Regions from separate parts of the Homo sapiens genome. Here region 1 is linked to region 2. Evidence: fine-mapped expression QTL. A gene starts in region 2. The other region holds a variant in brackets. All regions are shown on one strand. Distances are from middle to middle.

Region 1 (3,008 bases), 76 kb before region 2:
TGGGAGCCAGGGGCAGCAACAGAGACCAAGTGGGAGGCCTCTGCCTAGATCCCGGGTCCCAGACCTGGTGGCTTCAGAGGAGGCAATGAGGAATAGTCAGACTGGATATGCTTGAGATCGGATTTCCCAGTGGCAGGGCTGGCTCGTGGGTGTGCGACCCCTACAGTCACCCAGGCCCCATGCTCAGTGTACCCTTCTGATGTCACTGTCTTAAAATCCTTAATCCTTGTCCAACAAGGGTCCCCGCATATTCCTCCTGCACCTGGCCCTGTGAATTCTGTGGTCAGTGCTGCTGGTGGGTTGGAAGGTGAGTAAGAGAGAGAAGAAAGTCAAGGTAACTTGGAGCTCTCAGCTTGAACAGTGGGAAGGATGGAGATGCTGTTTCCTGGATTAGAGAGGACTGAGCAGGGCGGGTCCCTGGGAGCAGCTCAGGCTGGAACAGTCAAGGTAGAGCCGACCTGGAGACATCTAAGAGGGAAGTCAAGCAGCTGGGCAGGTCTGTGTGTCTGAAGTTCAGAGAGAGAGGTCCGGGCTGGCAGGAGAAACGTGGCTGACGTTGGCCCAGACATGGCATTGAAGGCTGTGAGTGCTGAGATCTGTACACTGAGCCGGTGGTACTCTAGCACAGGCAGGTCGAGGGGATGAGGAGGCCCTGGTAAAAACAGGAGGTGATGAGTTAGGATATGTGAGTGTCCGAGGGCTGTTGTGACAAGTGATCAAAGTGTGGTCAGGCCATGCTCCCTCCGAAGACTCCAGGGGCAGATCTTTCCTGTCTCTTCCTGCTTCTGGGGGCCGCGGCGATCTGTGTTCCTTGGCTGATAGACGGATCACTGGGTCTTGGCCTTCATCCTCACACCATGTTCTCTCTGTCTGTTTTCCCTTCCAATAAGGGCAGCAGGCATTGGATTCAGGCTCACCCTAATCCACCATGACTTCATCTTACTTTCAGTAATTACACCTGCAAAGCCTGTCAAAGGAAGCTGTGAACCAGGCGGGGATCCCAAGAGGCTGGACCTGGAGGTTCTCCCCACGCAGACCTCTGTCCTCTTAGGTGGCTTGGACAGAGCTCAAACCATCCTTGTGCTATTTGGGATCACTGGGTGGATGCTCTGGGTGCCCCCGCCCCTGCCAATTACCAAACCGCACTGGGAGCCAGCAGCCTTCAAGAGGGAAGTTGGGAGTTCCTA[C/T]TGCGGTTTTCCTGCCCAAATTCTGCCCACATGTAAAATGTCATGTTACCAAATGTCAGCAAAGACGTATTTAGAAAGTGCAGCATTTAGCCAGCATCCTTTTCCATTTCCAAAAGCCCGGTCACGGACACAGTCATTAAAAATACATCTTGCAGCCATGCTCTGTTACATTTTCCCAGCATCCTTTAAAATTCACCATTGCAGCCGCAGGTTGTTCCGGGTGTGACCCTTCTTTAATAAACTCCTGTTCTTGTCTGTTTACAGCCCTGCCTCCTGGACCTCTGTGTTCAGTGTCTTCCCCACCATCTGCTTCGGGTTTCAGGTAATTTTAGCATCTGTGTTGCAGCCTGTGGCGTTTGCAGAGGCTGTGGGTGACTCTCTGCTCCCTTGGGAAACCTTGGTTTCTCTGTCAGGGAGGCGTCTGAGGACTTCTCCTAGGATACAGTGGGCTCTGTGCCGCCCACCTGTGGTTCCCAGGCTGTCATTCCAGACCATGAGGATGGGTTGGTGTCTGGGCTCAGGGAAGTGGGAATTGCCTTGAACTTGGGAATCCAGCCCCCACTGATGGCCAAAAGCAGCACCATGTTTTTTAGGTTTCGCGTAGAGTGTGGGGACCCGGGACCTGTCCCTTCCTCTGCAGAACCCCCACAGGACTGCAGTCAGACCTGAGGCCTGGAGGCCTAAGCTGCCCACCTAACTCTGGCAGGACAGTTTTACCCAGGTGGACTCTGCCCAGGGCCTTGGGCAGGAAAGATCCTGCCTCCTGAGGGGTACAGGGTAGAGGAGCTGGAAGGTGTACAGGGAGCTGATTGGAGAGGGGAAAGGGGCAGAAATACAGAATTTTTAATAGAATGTCATGGGAGGGAGGACGGGGCTATATGTGTAGAATCCTGGCAGAGGGGCAGAGTCAGAGGTGTCCGCTCAAGGTGGTGGGGTTTGAAAGGGATCTTGAAGGATGTATGGGCAGCAGCCAGGTGACTGGAAGCGCACCCCAGGTAGAGAGGACAGCACAGGTGGGATAGCATAGGTGGGTCACCGATGTGAGCGGGCCCCAGGCACAGCTGGAGAGAGACCTGCAGAGGGCTCTGTGGCACAGCGCTGGGGGGAAGGTGGCGGGGCAGGGGGGGCAGGGGAGGTGGCGGGCCTGGGCTCAGTCCTCTGCTTCTGGGCTGTCATGGGTTCCCGCAGCCCTCCTAGCAGGTGGAAGCAGACACTGCTCTTCCATTTCTTTCTTTTTTTTTTTTTCTTTTTTTGAGTTGGAGTCTCATTCTTATTGCCCAGGCTGGAGTGTAGTGGATCTCAGCTCACTGCACTGCACCTCCTGGGTTCAAGCCTCCTGAGTAGCTGGGACTACAGGCGTGCACCACCATGCCTGGCTAATTTTTTTTGGTATTTTTAGTACAGAGGGAGTTTCACTATGTTGGCCAGGCTGGTCTTGAACTCCTGACGTCAAGCGATCTGCCCTCCTCGGCCTCCCACAGTGCTAGGATTATAGGCGTGAGCCACCGTGCCTGGCCACGCTGCTTATTTTCGGGAAGATTTGCCTCGATGTCCTAAAAACAACCACCTATCCACTGCCTACCACCAGCACCAACAAAACCATTCCAAAGTAAAATCAAGTCCACAGGGAGATGTGTCCAGGGTTTACCACCGGATCTCAGCTTTGTAGCCATTGAGCTCGTCTCTTCCCTTGACCATCAGTGAGCTCTGCTTCTGTTCTTCATCTTGCCTTTTCTTTGAGAACCCTTTTTAGGAAAAAAAAAAAAAAAATCTTGAAACATTTCCATTTCTCTTCCTCGTAATCAGTCGGCGTGCTGCTTC
Region 2 (2,500 bases):
GAGTTCAAAAGTTTCATTTCAATTCCTTTTGTGCTTTTTAGTTTTACGGAGTTGGAAGAATCAATTTTTAATGTTATCTTTTTAAGTCCCTTTAATTGAAGATGGCAGATGTTGATGGAAAGAAGTTAACATTAAAAATTGATGTTTCAAATTTCACAAAGGCAAACAGGATAAAAGAAATGAAAACAGTTGCACCTTCGACTGACGTTTCTTTCAAGTGTGCGGCATTTGTACTTCTGAGGTTGTTAAAGCTGCAAACTGCTCTGAGACTCTGGGACACCTGTATGTCTGCGTTTCTTTGGCACCTCTAGTGGCCATTTACTCCTTTGCCTTTGAAGACACCCCAGGAGGTGGGTGTTCTTATCCCCATTGTGCAGAGGAAGAAAAGCTGGTCAGGAGGAGTGGGCGTCTTGCCCCAGGTCACCTAGGAGGGTCCAAGACCACGGCCATGTGACAAATCTTAGTTCTGCCAAGTCCCCTCCAGTAAAACAGCTGATTACAGGGAGACCAAGAAAGTGACACGAAGCCCTGGGGGCGCTAAAGTGTGAGGGGGTGGTCTGTCCACGCAAGCGGCACTTGCCATTTATCACAGACGAGCCCTCGCCCCAGTGCCGCACACCTGGAGCCCAGGGTCTCCTGCAGCTCCCCAGCCTCCCAGGGGCCGCCCTCCCAACCCGCCGCACTCTTGAGCCTCCTGAGAGAAGCTAAGTCGCTGGGACCTCCAGGGATGGGGGCTGTTCATGGGCACCCAAGGGCTCTGTCCCTCCTGAGCAGGAGAAGCAGAAACCCAGAAGGCACCCAGCCTGGCTGCCGACCCAGTGGCCTTGGAACAGCTGGGCAGTAAGCCCGGGCTGGCCACACCCCTCTTTCCTGCTAGGAGCGGCGGTCACATGGCCCAGGGTACGCTGGGACTGTGGCCGCTTCAGCTGCTTGGCTGAGGGTACCAGGCACCTGGACAGGGACACAGCTGAGGATCTGGGAGGAACCTGGTGTAGGGGAGAATCCTGCCGGGCTCCAGAGAACCCAGGCGAGGGCCTCCACTCAGGACCACCCGGGACCCCCGCCTGGCGCCAGGGCTCTGCAGACCCTCCGGTCCAGCTGGGCTTGCCACGGGTGCCTGGGATGTGCCTGATTCCCTGCCCCGGAACCTGGCCCCGGACACTCACCTGACAGGCAGTGGTGCAGGAGCCCAGTGAGCCCGGCCAAGTTGTGCACTAGGAGGGTCAGGGGAACACGGATCACAGAGTCCCCCGCGAGATCGGGACACCCATTACCCTGTGGGGATCCAAGAGGCTCTGAGAGGCCAGAGGGAAGTGAGGGTATTTCACGGGGAGGGAGGAGGCGGCGCAGGCAGTGGGCGGGGCCAGGAAAATCACTTTCATAAGCGTGAGTCAGCAGGGGCCCGTGATGAATGAACTTGCACACTGGGCGGGTGTCACGCTGCCTGCCTCATGGCCAGCCTTAAAGGGCCCCTGCTGGGCGGCCTGCCAGGGGGCCTAGGGTGGCGCTCCCTCCCAGCCACCTCCCCCTAGCCAGACCCCCATCCCTGGGGCTCAGTCTCTGGAGGAGGAACCAGTGACCTCTGAATGAGCCAGCCTGGCCTTTGCCATAAGCGAAGAGGAGATGGCTTTGTCCCGCACACAGTTAAAATAACAGTACCTTTAAGTGGCGAAACCCCGTCCAGTTCCCGCATTCCACCTGGATTTCACTGCACCCTCCAATCCCCAAAAGCCCTCTGGCACCAGCCTGCCTGGGCTGCGAATCCAGCTTTGCCATTTCCCAGCTGCAGGGCTCTGGCAAGCTGCCTTAGGGCCCGCACCTCAGTTTCCTCATCTGAAAACTGGGGCCAAGTCACAGATTGTCTCTACCAGAGTGGCCGTGAGGGTTTACATGACATCCTTCTTGTCTGCCATGCTTAGAACTTGAAGCCTGCTCCCAGGCTCTTCTCTCCTGTTTTATGTGGGTAGCACTGCACACCCCACACCTTGCTGTTTCTTAATTATTATTATTTTGAGAAGGAGTTTCGCTCTTGTTTCCCAGGCTGGGGTGCAATGGCGCGATCTCGGTTCACTGCAACCTACGCCTCCCGGGCTCAAGTGATTCCCCTGCCTCAGCCTCCTGAGTAGCTGAGATTACAGGCATGTGCCACCACGCCCGGCTAATTTTGTATTTTTGGTAGAGATAGGGTTTCACCATGTTGGCAAGGCTGGTCTCGAACTCCCGACCTCAGATGATCCGCCCGCCTCAGCCTTCCAAAGTGCTGGGATTACAGGCGTGAGATGCCACACCTGGCCTATTTCTGAATTATTTTATTGTCTCTCTTCCCAAACCAGAATGTGAGCTCTGTGTGGGCAGGGAAGTATATTCGTGACTGCTCTACACAGTGTCTAGAACAGCGCTTAGGACACATAGGCACTCAACATCGGTTAAACAGAAGGGAGGCAGGGAGGGAGGGAAGCAGGGGGGGAAGGAGGGAGGAAGGCAGGGAGGGAGGGAAGTA

The links. PIP is the estimated chance that this variant, and not a neighbour inherited with it, causes the effect.
Region 1: its variant is fine-mapped to the expression of OSGIN1 in whole blood (TOPMed, PIP above 0.99).

What each region holds. Positions count from the first base shown.
Region 1 is chr16:84,027,995-84,031,002 of GRCh38, reverse strand. It overlaps SLC38A8 (solute carrier family 38 member 8), which reads left to right. Exons shown (of 11, transcript NM_001080442.3): 6 at 1,452-1,509. Among named protein-coding and RNA genes, the nearest start is that of SLC38A8, 13 kb to the left of the region's middle. The variant C/T (reference allele first, on the strand shown) is at 1,188.
Region 2 is chr16:83,952,037-83,954,536 of GRCh38, reverse strand. OSGIN1 (oxidative stress induced growth inhibitor 1) reads right to left here and starts at 1,297. Exons shown (of 6, transcript NM_182981.3): 1 at 1,167-1,297. RefSeq lists an enhancer at 1-484 and a silencer at 973-1,022.